2 separate regions of the Homo sapiens genome follow, and region 2 is linked to region 1. The links come from fine-mapping of genetic effects on gene expression. Tissue or cell type: cerebellum. Region 1 holds a variant in brackets; the other region holds the start of a gene. All regions are shown on one strand. Distances are from middle to middle.

Evidence for each region. PIP is the estimated chance that this variant, and not a neighbour inherited with it, causes the effect.
Region 2: ZP1 starts here. The variant in region 1 is fine-mapped to the expression of ZP1 in cerebellum (GTEx, PIP above 0.99).

What each region holds. Positions count from the first base shown.
Region 1 is chr11:60,822,296-60,830,397 of GRCh38, forward strand. All of the region lies in intron 2 of LOC105369322 (a long non-coding RNA gene), which reads right to left. Among named protein-coding and RNA genes, the nearest start is that of CCDC86, 16 kb to the right of the region's middle. The variant C/G (reference allele first, on the strand shown) is at 4,893.
Region 2 is chr11:60,863,788-60,871,889 of GRCh38, forward strand. It overlaps ZP1 (zona pellucida glycoprotein 1), which reads left to right and starts at 3,755. Exons shown (of 12, transcript NM_207341.4): 1 at 3,755-3,970; 2 at 5,358-5,479; 3 at 5,750-6,113; 4 at 6,545-6,688; 5 at 7,170-7,357; 6 at 7,430-7,527. The coding sequence starts at 3,775. RefSeq lists silencers at 349-643, 490-707.

The sequences.
Region 1 (8,102 bases):
TGGATGGCCCAGGGGAGGCACTGGGCTGTTGAGGCGGCCAGCTAAAGAGCTGAAGCTGGTTCACAGCGTGTGGTGGGGGGAGTCGTGGCAAAGGGCCTCTGCCCCAATATATGCAGCCGAGGAAGGAGAAAGGTGGTGTCCCTGGGGACTTACCCCGAGGGTAACACTCAAGTCAAGGCGCTCAGCCACTACAATGAAACAAAAGCCCCTGGGACTTGATTTCTAGATCCAGATCTATCACTTAGCAGCCCTGTGACTTAGGCAGGTTGCCTCCTTCTCTCAGTCTTAGTTTCTCCATCTTCAAAATGAGAGACTAGTCCCTCCCACCTCCAAGCATGGGCCAGAGACCAGCATCTTTGGCATCACCTGGGAGCTTGTTAGAAATGCAGAGTCTCAGGCCAGCTCCAGTGGCTCAAGCCTGCAATCCCAGAGCTTTGGGAGGCTGAGGGGAGGATCTCTTGAGGCAAGGAGTTTGAGAACACCTGAGCAACATAGCACGACCTTGTCTCTACTAAAAATAAAAAATGTTGATATGCAACAAGATATAAAAAAGGAAAAAAAAATTAAAAAGGAAAACTAGCTGGGTATGGTGGTACATACCTGTAGTCCCAGCTACTCAGGAGGCTGAGGCAGGAGGTTCACTTGAGCCCAGGAGTTGGAGGCTGCAGTGAGCTATGATGGTGCCACTGCATTCCAGCCTGGGCCAGAGAGCAAGACCCTGTCTCTTAAAAAAAAAAATGCAGGCCAGGCATGGTGACTCACGCCTGTAATCCCAGCACTTTGGCAGGCCGAGGCGGGCAGGATCACGAGGTCAAGAGATCAAGACCATCCTGGCCAACATGGAGAAACTCCATCTCTACTAAAAATATAAAAATTAGCTGGGCATGGTGACACAGACCTGTAGTCTCAGCTACTTAGGAGGCTGAGGCAGGAGAATCGCTTGAACCTGGGAGGCAGAGGTTGCAGTGAGACGAGATTGCGCCACTGCACTCCAGCCTGGCGACAGAGCAAGAGGGAGACTCCATCTCAAAAAAAAAATTAAAAATAAAAATAAATAAATAAATAAATAAATAAATGCAGAATTTAAGCCCCACCGTACACGGGCTGAGTCAGTCTGCAGCTTAACAAGATCCCTAGGCGCTCATGTCCTCTGTCAAGTTTGAAAAGTACTGGACCAGTTACCTAGGAATCTTTCGGGCATTCCCGGCTAATTTTTGTATTTTTAGTAGAGACAGGGTTTCGCCACGTTGGCCAGGCTGGTCTTAAACTCCTGACCTCAGGTGATCTGCCTGCCTTGGCCTCCCAATGTGCTGGGATTACAGGCATGAGCCACCATGCCCGGCAGGTACCTAGGAATCTTTAGTGGCCCCCTTCTAAAATCCTATCTCACCAACCTATGCAGAGCCCAGTGGGGAGGACTAGATGCCTTTCTCTGTTCCCATAAGCCCCATTACTCCCTGTTGTCAGGCCTCTGAGCCCAAGCTAAGCCATCATTTTCCCTGTGACCTGCATGTATACATCCAGATGGCCTGAAGCAACTGAAGATCCACAAAAGAAGTGAAAATAGTCTTAACTGATGACATTCCACCATTGTGATTTGTTCCTGCCCCACCCTAACTGACACAATATATTCTCCCCTGCCCTTAAGAAGGTACTTTGTAATATTCAAAGTACCACTTTGTAATATTCAAAGTACCCTTAAGAAGGTACTTTGTAATATTCAAAGTACCCTTAAGAAGGTACTTTGTAATATTCAAAGTACCCTTAAGAAGGTACTTTGTAATATTCAAAGTACCCTTAAGAAGGTACTTTGTAATATTCAAAGTACCCTTAAGAAGGTACTTTGTTCGCCTATCCCAAACCTGTAAGAACTAATGATAATCCCACCACCCTTTACTGACTCCTTTTTCGGACTCAGCCCACCTGCACCTGGGTGAAATAAACAGCCTTGTTGCTCACACAAAGCCTGTTTGATGGACTCTCTTCACACGGACGCGCATGACACTTGGTACATGGCCCACTGTGCCAAGCCATAAATGCTCATGGCAAACCTTCCCTGCATTAGGGTTTCCAGGAGGCAGGTGCCTCTGGGCTCCCTGAGACCATCAATCTCCCTGCCTCTCTGTGCAGTTCTTAGTTTCAGGAGCAACCACCCTGGTCATCTCAGCAAACTGCACAGTTCCCCGGGTGAGTTTCATAGACATTTCTTCTGCCTCTGGGCACAGCTTATCCTGGAAGACCTTATATGAAAGTGGATGCTTGTGGGGCCTTTCCACAGGATGGTGGGCGAGTAGGGAGTGGGCCTTTGTCCGCAATCCTACTCACTGGCAGGTCTGAGCTCCTGACCATCCTCCTGTCCTATAGAAGCTTCCTGTATCTAATTTGAGTCTGTTTCTAGTCTCCTCTCCTTTACCACAGCTCCTCCATGCCTTTAATACAGCCTGGACCTCAGCAAGTCACCCCTAATCGGATAGGTTGCATGCAGACCCAAATGGCATTAAACTTGCTGGACCTCCTGGTTCGACCTCCAGAAAGGGGACTCCATCCCCACCAGAGCCGTCTGTTTTGAACCTAGGAAACTAGAATCCTAGGGCTGCTGTAACCAATTACCACACACCAGGTAGCTTAAAACAACAGAAACATGGCCGGGCCTGGTAGCTCATGCCTGTAATCCCAGCACTTTGGGAGGCCGAGGCAGGCGGATCACTTGAGGTCAGGAGTTCGAGACCAGCCTGGCCAACATGATGAAACCCCGCCTCTACTAAAAATACAAAAATTAGCCAGGCGTGGTGGCAGTTGCCTGTAATCCCAGCTACTCGGGAGACTGAGGCAGGAGAATTGCTTAAGCCCAGGAGGCAGAGGTTGCAGTAAGCTTAGATCGTGCCTGGGCAAGAGTGAGACTCCATCTCAAGAAAAAAAAAAAAAAGAAAGAAAACAGAAACCTGTAGTCTATGATTCTGGAGGCTGGAAGCCCAAAGTCAAGGTGCTGGCAGGATCGAGTTCTCTCTGAAGGCTCTTGGGGATAATGCTTTCTGGCCTCGTCCCAGCTTCCAGTGGTTGCTGGCAACTCTTGGTGTTCCTTGGCTCGTAGACACATCCTGCCAGTCTCTGCCTCTGTCATCAGGGGCTGTTCTCCCTGTGTCCCTTCCCTTCTTCTAAGGACACCAGTCATAATCCATTATGACCTCATCTTAACTCGATTACATCTGCAAAGACCCTATTTCCAAATAGATCCCATTCACAGGTACCAGGGTTAAGACTTCAACATATCTTTTGGGGGGATACAATTCAACCCACAAAAGATGGCAAATAGCTTTTCTATCGATGCGGCCCTGGTGGGTTCTGAGGATTGATGGATGTTGTCTGCCATGGACTTTGCAGGAAGAAGTGGCCACACATGTTGCTGTCTGTGCTCCTGCAACAAATCCATCTCCTGGCTATTAAGGCTGACATAGCCTCTGTGGCCCATGGGCTCCAGCAGGTGGAGCAGAGATGCTGTCACCTTGGTCACTGGTTCCTGGCTCCTAGGGCAAGTCAGTGGTTCCTCCAGGATCAAAAGCGTGCAAAGGAAGCCCGCAACACAGAGGGCATGTGAGCCAGCACTCTCCCCTTCCCGCTGGGTAGTAACTCGGGCTCCGGTCTCCTTAGCAGGTGAAGGTCAGCACAGGGCCAAACCTGGTCAGCTCACTGTGTGCCAGCCTCGGGGTGTGTGCCTTCATGGTTGAGCTGGCTGCCAGCAACAACTATACCCAGATCAGTGTCTCAGGCCCAGAGAATAAGCATCCACTCTTTGGGCACCATTTAATCCTAGAAACCACCACCAAGAGATATTTTCTTATCCTCTATTGTCAAAGTTAAAATGGGGAGTGGGATTTTTTTTTTCTTTAAATACAGACAGAGCCTCGCTAACTTGCTCATGCTGTCCTCAAACTCCTGGGCTCCAGCGATTCTCCTGCCTAAGCCTCCTGAGTGGCTGGGACTCCAGGCAGGTACCATGACACCCAGCTTTTGGGAGTAGGGTTTAAGTGTTTAGCAATTACCTCCAGATTCCCTGAGGCAGAACTCCACCAGGATTTGACAGCCCCAGGTACTTCCCTCTGGACTAGTTTTTCCTGTGTTAATGCTGATGTGGTGGCTCTTTAGGAGGCCAAGGCGGGAGGATCGCTTGAACCCAGGAGTTTGAGACTAGCCTGAGAAACATGGTGAGGCCCACTCTCAACCAAAAATATTTTTTTGAAAAAAATTAGCCAGGTATGTTGGTGCAGGCCTGTAGTCCCAGCTACTTGGAAGGCTGAAGTGGGAGGATTGCTTGAGCCCATGAGTTCAAGGCTGCGGTGAGTTATAATCATGCCACTGCACTCCAGCCTGGGTAACAGAGTGAGCCCCTGTTTCTTAAAAAAAATAATAATCATTTGCTTGGAGGAAGATATTCCAGCTGCTTGCCTCCTACCAAGGACGTTCCCCTGTAAGAGCATAGAGGTCAAGGGTGCATTAGGAGGACTGCCAGCATAATAATACCTAAGATTTATCAGTGAGTCCTGCCTTCTGGCTGTGGCCATTGAGGTCACATCTTTTCAAAGACATGTGATTATGTCATGAGATTGCTACCAGGGACCTGGACGTGGCAAAAATGGGGCTGGGAATACTGGGGGAGGAGTTTCCTCTGCTCTCATCCTAGGGAAAGAGAGGAAAGGAGAAACACTCTCTTCAGGTGGGTCTGACACACCATGCAGGGGCGAGGGACACACTGCCCACTGCTGCCCACACTTTGACCACTTCAGTGACCCAGCTGCCCCAGAATCCCCGACCTTCCCCTGTAGCCTGGGGTCCCTGAACGGCCCCAAGACTCAACTTCCTGCCCGTGACCTCACGTGAAACTGATCTTCACCCAG[C/G]CCCTCTCTGTGCTTTCCTTATCAGTAGAGGACAAATCATTCCTCCTAGGCCCCCACGACCCTAGTCCACTGTGTTCACCTTCCCTAGCTGCTCTCTCCTCCATCCATGCCTCTCCCTCTCCTCTGGTCCAGAAACTCAAGTCCCGGAGACCCCGTGTCCCTCTCTGACTGTGGTCTCCCCTCTCTTCCCTTTCACAGCAACAATCTCCTACGGACTCCATCTCCTCCTCTCCCGTCTCTACAGACCTCAAGCCCTCTCAGGGCAGCCGCCAGTAGCTTACTGCCAAATACATGCTTTTCCATGTATTTTCTTACTTGACCTTTCTGTACTTTTTTGCTGATGGGTGTCAGTCTGAATGGTTGACCACATGGGTCTTGGAATTGGATGGGTCTGAATCCCAGCTTTCACATACCAGCTGTGTGGCTTTGGACAAGTACCTCAATTTTTCTGAACCTCTGTTTCATCCTCTGTGAAATGGGGCTAATCAGAGTAGCTATCTAATAAGGCAACTAAGATTAAAATAAGCACGTAACAGGTGCTCACTAGATGACAGGTCACTCCCCTTCTAGAAAGCTTCCCTTCTTTTATCCATCTCCTTGGTCAGAATCTGCAGACTGATTCCGGGACTGGCTGGCCTGTAAAACTGCCCAGTTTTTGCAGGCTTTGCACCCTGGTTTTGCAGGTGCCCTGGAAGAGTCTCTCGGTGCTGCTGCTGTTCTTCACCATCCTGGCACTAGGCATCGCCTTCTTGTCTACCTTCCTGGGCTTCCATGCCACCTTCTGCTACACCCAGCTGGTGAGTGGGTTGGCAAGGTCTCTGCAGGACAGGCAGGCCCTCACTCGATCCCCAGAGCCTGGACAGGGGAGCCGAGGGAGGAGGGACAACAAGAGGGCTGTGTGGGGAGTGGCAGGCAGAACCCCTCCTGCCATCCTAAACCATCTGTACCATGGCCGTGCTGAGCCCCACTTGGTCTACACTGGGGAGATGCTGTCTTGAAGGACATGTGAGAACAGGGAGGTGGCTAGGGAAGAAGATGTTTACAAAAGCTTATAGCTCAGCACCAAGGTAGAACTGACTAGGACAAGTGCCGCATGGTGCCGCCAGATTCTGGTGGTGGCAGCCGATGCTGCAGGAAGGAAGGGCAGCGGTGAGGCTTCTGGATCCTGGCTGACAACTATAGCCTTACATGCGCTGGGAGACGGTGGTTACAGCAGCTCCCTCCATCAAGGGGCTTCCACAAGCTCCTTCCCCCGACCCTCATGACAGGCCTGAAGGGGCAGGGAAGAGACTGACCACGTGTCACAGATGAGGAAACTGAGGCCCAGAGAACTAAGGTGACCTGGCTGAGATCACATCCATCCCCAGAATCCAGGTACGACTCCCGGGCAACCTTCTCCTCAGGGAAGACCAGAGCTACAAGAAGGACTCAGCCCAAAGCACAAGGTCTGGGGGCTCAGGCTACCACCACGTGGTCTGTGGAGGGCTGTGGGCAGAGAGGAAAGCCTGGATCGCCAGAGAAAGCACAGAAGGAAAACCTAAAAGGATCACAGGGTCACATGGGCTGCTTCTGGGCTGACTAAAGGCGAGTGGCCTTGGCCCTTCCTTCTTCTCCCGACTCCAGTACCTGAACCCAGCTCAGGAACTTCCCACGGCCACAGCAGCCACTCCCAGGATCCACCCACCAGGCCCCACAGCCCCCAGCCACAGCCTGCACTCAAGGCATCTGCTGATCCTGGGAGCTGAGCTCCTCCCAGCATCTGACCTCTGGGGCTCTGCGATCTTCCCCTTCTCCTGGCTGCAGGGTTGGCCTTCCCTTTGTAACACCCAGCCCCAGAGGTCACTACCCCCATCCTCATACACACCCCAGCATGGAGATGGGTCTGCTCTTTCTGTCTAAGAAACATCCCTCAATGTCGCTGTTTTGCTGTCAACAAAAAGTTGACATGTGGCTTGGGTCACATCCACCAGGATTTAGTGACTAAAGTTGCATATCTTGTCCGTGTGTGTGCACAGCAGGGACCCTAGGTGTCTCACGTCTGTATGTGTGGATGGACAAGTATCCACCTGTTCCCCCACTTAATGGATTTGTTACTGGAAACCCTGCTGCTAAGTGAGAAGCTGTTAAATAAAAATATTTTCATGAATGCGGCCAGGCACAGTGGCTCACGCTTGTAATCCCAGCACTTTGGGAGACCGAGGCAGGCAGATCACTTAAAGTCAGGAATTCGAGACCAGCCTGGCCTACATGGCAAAACCTCGTCTCTACAAAAAATACACAAGTTAGCCAGGCATGGTGGCGCACGCCTGTAATTCCAGCTACTCAGAAGGCTGAGGCACGTGAATTGCTTGAACCTGGGAGGCAGAGGTTGCAGTGAGCCAAGATCGCGCCACTGCATTCCAGCCTAGGTGATAAAGTGAGACTTTGTCTAAAAAAGAAATATACTTTCATGAATGCAAATGGGAAAAATGTATTCCATCCCAACCCAAGGTACCCAAGCAATTCTCGGAAAAATTTTCAGTGCAGACAAGTATACAGGTAGTAAGCAATCTGAATGTATTCAGGAGTCCCCCCTGACGTGAGGTTCCACTTTCTGTGATTTCAGTTATCCGTGGTCCACCACAATCCAGAAATAGCTGGCCGGACGCAGTGGCTCATGCCTGTAATCCCAGCACTTTGGGAGGCCAAGGCAGGTGGATCACCTGAGGTCAGGAATTCAAGACCAGCCTGGCTAATACGGCGAAACACCATCTTTACTAAAAACACAAAAATTAGCCGGGTGTGGTGGCATATGCCTGTAATCCCAGTTACTTGGGAGGTTGAGGCATGAGAATCGCTTGAACCTGGGAGGCAGAGGCTCCCAGTGAGCCGAGATCACGCCACTGCACTCCAGCCTGGGCAACAGAGCGAGATTCTGTCTCAAAAAAAAAAAAAAAAAAAAAAGTTGAGTACACTGTATTTGGAGCGACCACATTTACATAACTTTTTTTTTTTTTTTTGAGATGGAGACTCCCTCTGTCGCCCAGGCTAGAGTGCCGTGGTGTGATCTCGGCTCACTGCAACCTCCACTTCCCGGGTTCAGGTGATTCTCCTAACTCAGACTCCCAAGGAGCTGGAATTACAGGCTCGTGCCACCACGCCTGGCTTTTTAAATTATTTTTAGTAGAGACGGGGTTTTGCTATGTTGGCCAGGTTGGTCTCAAACTCCTG
Region 2 (8,102 bases), 41 kb after region 1:
CAAACTGAGGGCCATTCTGCAAAATCATCCGGCTGTACTAAAAAATGTCAAGGGTATGAAAGACAAAAGAAGATAGAAGGGCGGTCCCAGATCAGAGGAGGCCAAGAGGCACGCCAGCGAGACTCTGAGCCTGGATTGGATCCTGCAGACTCCCAAAACCACTGTACTCCTTTGCCATGAAAGTCACAGTTAGGACAGTCGGCAGATGTTGAGTAATTGTCAGAGCAGGAGCACCGTCATCTCGGACAAATACTGCCACTTTAAGCTCCAGCTCCCTTTCTAGCCTCATGCATTTCAAGGAAATCACTTCTCTTCTAACTACAACAGCCAGAAAGAGCAGACAGTAAAATACAGATAAGACAGCTCCGGCACAGAGCGGGGTGGAGGGAAGGTCTCTTTGGTAACTGCCAAACTTCACCCTCACACAATGAGCCCCAGTAAAACAGTGGGCCTTAATAAGCACATTCCTTTTCCTTCAGGGGCACTAAGATAGGGAAGCTAAAAGCAGACTCTGGGGATATGCCTGTAGCTGCAGAAAGATATATGGGAACAGACACACAACTCTCCCTCCCAGATACGCACAGCAAAGAGACACAGGAGCAGTCCAAGCCTCTGATAAACTCCCCCGCCCTGAATCCTTAACTCTTAATCTGTAAGAGAGTGGGGCTCTGACCTAACTCGGCCAGCCGCCCCTCTCAGGTTTACTCAACATAAACCTGTCCCTGTTGCCTGTTGAACCGCCCTTTCATGTTGCTTTCCTCTTTATTTCTTACAATAATGTCTGCAGATTAGATCGTTGTGTTTATACCATTGTTGGTTTCCTGATTTTGATCATTTGACTGTAGGGGTGATTTGTTTTTTTAGGAAATGTATACTGAAGCAATTAGAGGTAAAGGGGAATCTGTCATTTCTGCAACTGACTCTTGAATGATATGGAAGAATGTGTGCGTGTGTGCGTGTGCGTGCGTGTATGTCTGCACACATGCAGAGAGAGAAAGCGGGAGCTACAGCAAATGTAAAAAGTGAACAGTGAACATCTGAGGAATCTGGAGGAGGCTATATGGAAATTCTGCAAATCTGAAATAATTTCAAAATTAAAAGTTTAAAACTTCCACATCGTCCCTCAGGGAAAATCCACCCCACTCCCCGCTCCTGCCTGGCTCCTCTCCTTCCCCTCCTAGTCCTTCCCTCGCCAGCACCCTCAGCCTGCCTGGAGTCCTTGTCCTGGACCTTTGTGTGACCTGCTTCCTCCCTCCTCCTCCAGCTCTGCTCTCCCCAGATCCCCATTGCACCATCCCTGTCCTCCCCGCCTCCTCCCACCTCTGCTCAGGACCCCTTTCCTCCAAAAACACTTCCATGTCGCCCATCCTCGATGCTGTGTTGGGTGCCTCTTCCCACTGTGCCCCCAGAGGGACTCCCACCCCGCCCCACCAAGCTTTCCCAGCTGAGCTTTAATCACAGTAGAAGTGAATTATTGCCAAGCATTAAATCATTACTGCACCTGGTACCCATGACTTGTCTCTTTGTGTCTTCCTATCCACCATGTGGGCAAGGAAAGCATTATCACCCCCAGTTTACAAACAGGAAACCTGAGGCTCAGAATAGATAATGCATCTGAGTCACAGCTAAGAAAGTGGTTGGGGCACCATTAGAACCAACTTTTTTTGTTTAAACTTTTATTTTAGGTTCAGGGTTACTTATGCAGGTTTGTTATATAGGTAAATGCATGTCCAGAGGGATTGTTGTACAGATTATTTCATCACCCAGATACTAAGCCTAGCACCCAATAGTTATTATTTCCACCCTTCTCCTTCCTCTTACCCTCTACCCTTCAATAGGCCCCAGTGTGTGCCATTCCCCTCTATGTGTCCATATGTTGTCATCATTTAGCCTTCAGTTATAAGTGAGAACATGTGGTATTGGTTTCTGTTCCTGCATTTGTTTGCTAAGGATAATATCCTCCAGCTCCATCCATGTTCTTGCAAGAGATGTGATCTCATTCTTTTTTATGGCTGCATAGTATTCCATGGTGTATGTGTACCACATTTTCCTTTTTTTTTTTTCTTTTTCTTTTTTTTTTTTTTTTTTTGAGACAGAGTCTCACTCTGTCGGCCAGGCTGGAGTGCAACAGCACAATCTCGGCTCACTGCAACCTCCGTCTCCTGGGTTCAAGCGATTCTCCTGCCTCAGCCTCCTGAGTAGCTGGGACTACAGGTGCGTGCCACCACACCCAGCTAATTTTTGTATTTTTAGTAGAGACAGGGTTTCACCATGTTAGCCAGGATGGTCTCGATCTCCTGACCTCGTGATCCGCCCGCCTCGGCCTCCCAAAGTGCTGGGATTACAGGCGTGAGCCACCGTGCTCAGCATGTACCAGATTTTCTTTATTGAGTCTACCATTGATGGGCATTTGATTCCATGTCTTGGCTATTGTGAATCATGCTGCACTGAACATATGCACGCAGGTTCAGTGTCTTTATGATAGAACAATTTATATTCCTTTGGATATATACCCAGTAATGCGATTTCTGCATCAAATGATAGTTCTGTTTTCAGCTCTTTGAGGAATCACCACACTCCCACAGTGGTCAAACCAATTTACACCCCCACCAAGAGCGTATAAGCATTCCTTTTTCTCTGCAACCTCACCAGAACCGGGCTCTTAGCTATCAAGCCTCTTGCTCTCCCCTTCCAGCAGCTGCTAATTATAATAGCTGCATTTTCTAATGTTTGCTGAGCTCAAACGCTGCTGGGCCCTAGGCTAATCACTTGCAGGAATTAGTGCCAGGACGTGGGGCTGGTGACAGTCCCTTCCTCAGAGGATGGTCAGGCGGTATAAGGATCTAACACAAGCAAGACCTGGCACTGTAATCATGGCAGACCACAGGCCATTCTTGTTGTTTCCAGCCACTTTTATGTCTTAGAACTGTTCTAGATTTACAGAACTGAGAAGATAGTACAGACAGTTCCCATACACCGCAGGCCCAGTTTACCCCATAACTGATCTTACTTGAGTATGATACATTTATTACAATTAATGAACAAACAAATGTGGACACATTATTATTAACTAAAATCCACTTTCTTCACTTTTACTGCCTTTTTCTGTTCCACGATCCCATCCAGATGCCACATTACATTTAGTTGTCCTTGTTATTTTTTATTAGTCATAGTCATCATCATACTGACCGGCTGAATCCTCAGGAGAGCCCTTGGAGGTGCTACTGGTCTGTTTACTCACCTGCAGTCCCCATTCCGCTGCCAGCTCTGAGGGCTGTGTCTTCCTGGTCTTGCTCTAATGCCCCTAAAGCCCTGCCTGAGGAGCTGTGACTGTACTAACCAGGCCGGCAGCTCCCAGTGGTCCTGAGGCCTCAAGGCAGGAAGGAGGACCTGGAGAGCCTGTTGGGGCAGGAAGGGAATGCAGAAAGGCTGGGGTGAGAGGGAGACAGTGGAGGGCCTGAGGTCTGCAGTGCCACCTCCTAGCCCTGGATCCCTTCCCACAGCCCATCTGCAACCTCAGTTTTCTGGAAAGCTCCCTCCTCCCTTCCAAAGCCACAGCTGTGAGACAGAAAGCCAGGGTGAGGGGCCACGTGCAGCTTTCTGCCTCCCGCTGCCTTTGGAACAGGAGTTTCACCACAGCCCCTGGTGGCCAGGTGGGTGCTCCTCCAGGTGGGCCCCCTTTGCCCTTACAGGCACCCACTTGCCACCTCCTCCATAAAAGGCCTGGGCCCAGCTCTGGTGGCGAGGGAGTAGGGGGTGTGTCTGTGGCGTCTCATGGCAGGAGGCTCAGCCACGACCTGGGGTTACCCTGTGGCCCTGCTACTGCTGGTTGCCACCCTGGGGCTGGGTAGGTGGCTCCAGCCCGACCCTGGCCTCCCAGGCCTCCGGCACAGCTACGACTGTGGGATCAAGGGAATGCAGCTGCTGGTGTTCCCCAGGCCAGGCCAGACTCTCCGCTTCAAGGTGGTGGGTGAGTGCTGGCAGAGTCCTGGCCCCTGCCTCCCTGGCCACGGGCTGCTGCCAGAAGGGAGCTGGGACCCTTCCCCTGAAGGAGCAAGAACAGAGGCCTCCCTCCAGCCTGGGGGTGTCCAGCCCCCCACCCCCTCACCACAGAAAAGGGCAAGGAGGAGAATCATCACCCAGGGCAGCTTCTCCCACGTTAGTGTGCATGGGAAACACCTGGCCACCTTGTTGAGGTGCAGGTTCTGATTCAGTGGACCTGGGGCAGGGCCAAGCCTCTGCATTTCTTTTCTTTTTTTTTTTTTTTTCTGAGACAGTCTCACTTCTTTCAATCTGTTCTCCAGGCTTGAGTGCAGTTGGCACGATCTCAGCTCACTGCAACCTCCACCACCCAGGTTCAAGCAATTCTCCTGCCTCAGCCTCTTAGTAGCTGGGACTACAGGTGTGTGCCACCACGCCCAGCTACTTTTTGTATTTTTAGTAGAGATGGAGTTTCACGATATTGGTCAGGCTGGTCTCGAACTCCTGACCTCAGGTGATCCACCTGCCTCAGCCTCCCAAAGTGCTGGGGTTATAGGCGTGAGCCACTGCACCCAGCCTAGGCTCTGCATCTCTAACCACGCTCAGTCAAAACTGAGGCTGAGGGTCCATAAACCACTTCCAGCAGCAGGACCTAGTAGGCGTGGCCTGGTGTGGGTTTAGAACTGGGGTTTGGATCTGCAGCTTCTAAACGGGATGATTTTGGACAACTGACCTGACTCATAAGCCTCTGTTTCCTCATCTGCAAGGTGGGGAAGATGAACCTGGCCGTGCTCATGGAACAAGGGCATGGGGACATGCCCACACCCAGGGAATGCCCAGGCTGTTCTGGGGCAACAAGCAGGGTGGACACCTAGGGGGTGTCTCCAAGCAACTGCAGCAGCCACAGTTAACCTGGGAAATGGGTTCAGATCTTTCTACAAAGCCCAGGATTCAAATCCTCATTCTGCCCCTCATTGTGTGCACCTAAGAAAGCTCACGCACCCTCCCTTCCTCAGCTGCCTCAGCCACAGGATGTGGATAACTAAGCTTAAAAGAAGTGATGTGAAATACTCAGGCCAGTGCCTGAGACCCTGTGTATCCCTTCTCCACCTCATCTTCGTGCCTGCCTGCTGCCGTGTGCTGTGAGCAGGGAACCCTAGCTAGAAAGATCCTAAGACCCTCCCATCCCCTTACAGCTGTGGAAACTGAGAGCAGAGAGGGGAGGGGGCTTGCCCAAGACCACACAACAAACTAATAGCAAAGCTAAGGCAAGAACCCAGGTCTCCTGGCTGCTGAGTGGGAACTCCTTCCGAGACCCCAGCAACCTCTCCCTGCACCCTTCAACATCCCTGGCCCCTCCCCTTCCCCCACTGCAGATGAATTTGGGAACCGATTTGATGTCAACAACTGCTCCATCTGCTACCACTGGGTCACCTCCAGGCCGCAGGAGCCTGCAGTCTTCTCGGCCGATTACAGAGGCTGCCACGTGCTGGAGAAGGTAGGGGTTGTTCATGCTCTGGCACAGGGGCAAGCTTGTCCTAGTGTCATGTCAGGCTGAAGAGGCCCCTCATGAACCAGAAAGGAGCCAAAGCCGAAGATCTGTTGAGCTGGTGGGTGAGGGAAACTAAGCTCTGGAAGGTACTTTCTGGAATCCACCATGAATCCAGCTCCCTGCCTAATGGCCAGCTCAGCTCTCGTGGGCCCGTCCCCTGCCTGGGTATGCTAGGTGGCCTCACCTTGCTGCTCTATGATGGCCTCTCACCTGCAGGATGGGCGTTTCCACCTGAGGGTGTTCATGGAGGCTGTGCTGCCCAATGGTCGTGTGGATGTGGCACAAGACGCTACTCTGATCTGTCCCAAACCTGACCCCTCCCGGACTCTGGACTCCCAGCTGGCACCACCCGCCATGTTCTCTGTCTCAACCCCACAAACCCTTTCCTTCCTCCCCACCTCTGGCCATACCTCCCAAGGCTCTGGCCATGCCTTTCCCAGCCCACTGGACCCAGGGCACAGCTCTGTCCACCCAACCCCTGCTTTACCATCCCCTGGACCTGGACCTACCCTCGCCACCCTGGCTCAACCCCACTGGGGCACCTTGGAACACTGGGATGTGAACAAACGAGATTACATAGGTACGCAGGACATCTGAGTGTACTTACCCTCTGTCTGGGGACTTCTGGAGTACAGGGTGGCCTAACAGCCTTTTACTGGGCTCTAAGCCATTTCTTTTTTTGTTTTTTTCTTTTTTTAGAAAAAGATGATTCTTTTATTCCTTTGTAGTATTTGGAAAACAGCTTTAAACATGTATAGGTGTACTAAAGCTAGAAGAGGTCTTGTAAATTTGTTTCCTAACTTTAGGCAGAAACTCATTGAAACCATTGCCAGCAACACCTGATTCTCAGAAAATATTCTCTAGAAATTTCAGTAATATTCAGTTTTGAGGGAGGACATTTACTGTGCTGGCTAAGAGCACAAGCTCTGGAGCAGGTTCCCAAGATTCAATTCCAGGGCCATGATTTGCAAACTGTGTGCCTTCAGCCTCATCACTCTGTCCCAACCCTAGGTACCCACCTGAGCCAGGAGCAGTGCCAGGTGGCCTCAGGGCACCTCCCCTGCATCGTGAGAAGAACTTCAAAAGAAGCCTGTCAGCAGGCTGGCTGCTGCTATGACAACACCAGAGAGGTTCCCTGTTACTATGGCAACACAGGTACAACCTCCCACCCCAGCAAGATCCTGGTCCCTTGGATTCTGAAGCGGAAGGAGAGCTGTCTCCTCCAGCTGGTGGAAACTGCTTCCTATCCTCCTCCTGGAGAGCCCAACTCCCAGAGCAGATGGCAGAGGAGACCTTTAGATGGGGCGGTCACATGTCCCAGCTGGCCTTATAACAACTGTCCCAGGGAACTATTAATAGATCTACCTTACACACATCTGGACTTTCAGATCTGAAACGCCCTGGTTTGGATGACAGATTATATGGTGAACCTACTTTTAGAGTGTAGTTCAACTCATTTGTCACATGGATGAGAAAATCAGTCCATAAAGGGTTTGCTGGGGCCAACACCAGCCTAAGTGGAGAGTAAGCGTCCATTCTCCTAGACCGGCACTTAAAGCCTGGCTGTCACCCAGCCATCCCGTCTCTGTGCTGGATGGACACCAAACCCCAAGGCCCTCATCTGCCTTTGTCCCAGCTACTGTCCAGTGCTTCAGAGATGGCTACTTCGTCCTCGTGGTGTCCCAAGAAATGGCCTTGACACACAGGATCACACTGGCCAACATCCACCTGGCCTATGCCCCCACCAGCTGCTCCCCAACACAGCACACGGAAGCTTTCGTGGTCTTCTACTTCCCTCTCACCCACTGTGGAACCACAATGCAGGTAGGAGCCGGGACCACAGGCTGGGGCCTGGTCCCCCACCAGAAAGCCTCACCCAGCTGTCTCTTCCTACAGGTGGCTGGCGACCAGCTCATCTATGAGAACTGGCTGGTGTCTGGCATCCACATCCAAAAGGGGCCACAGGGTTCCATCACGCGGGACAGCACCTTCCAGTAAGGGCAGCCCTCCTCCTACAGGCGTGGCTGTGTGCTAGGGTGTCAGGGGCACAGGCGAGCTCAGTACAGGCTTCGGAGCCATCTCAGCTCAAACCCAGGCTCTGCTGTTACCCGGCTATGTGATCTTAGGCAAGGGGCCCACCTCTTCCCAGCCTCCCCTGCTGGGCAGGGGAAATGTCCCTCTCTCAGGGCAGACATGAGTGTTAAGTGGAGCCCTTCCATGCCTGGCCTGCAGGGCTTGGCTAGAAGCCCAGGGCCAGTCCTGAGAGAGCTGGAGTCCTGAGAGAGCCCTGTCTTGGTCTCTCCAAGAACCAAGCTCAAAGCAACTGAAAGTGTCCCCTTCCAGGTCCCAGGAGGAGGCTGAGGCTACGGCTGTTGCCCCTCCTAATGTCAGGTTAAGAAGCCACAGATGAAGCTGAAGATACCTCTCTGAGGATGTGGTGGGAGAGGAACTGGGTGGGGGAGGAACCCCTCATTGTTAGGGGCCTCCTGGACCTGCTGACTCAAGAGGCAAAACCAACCCAGGTGCCCAGGATGCCAGTGGGGGTGACCCGAGGGAATCTGTCTGTCAT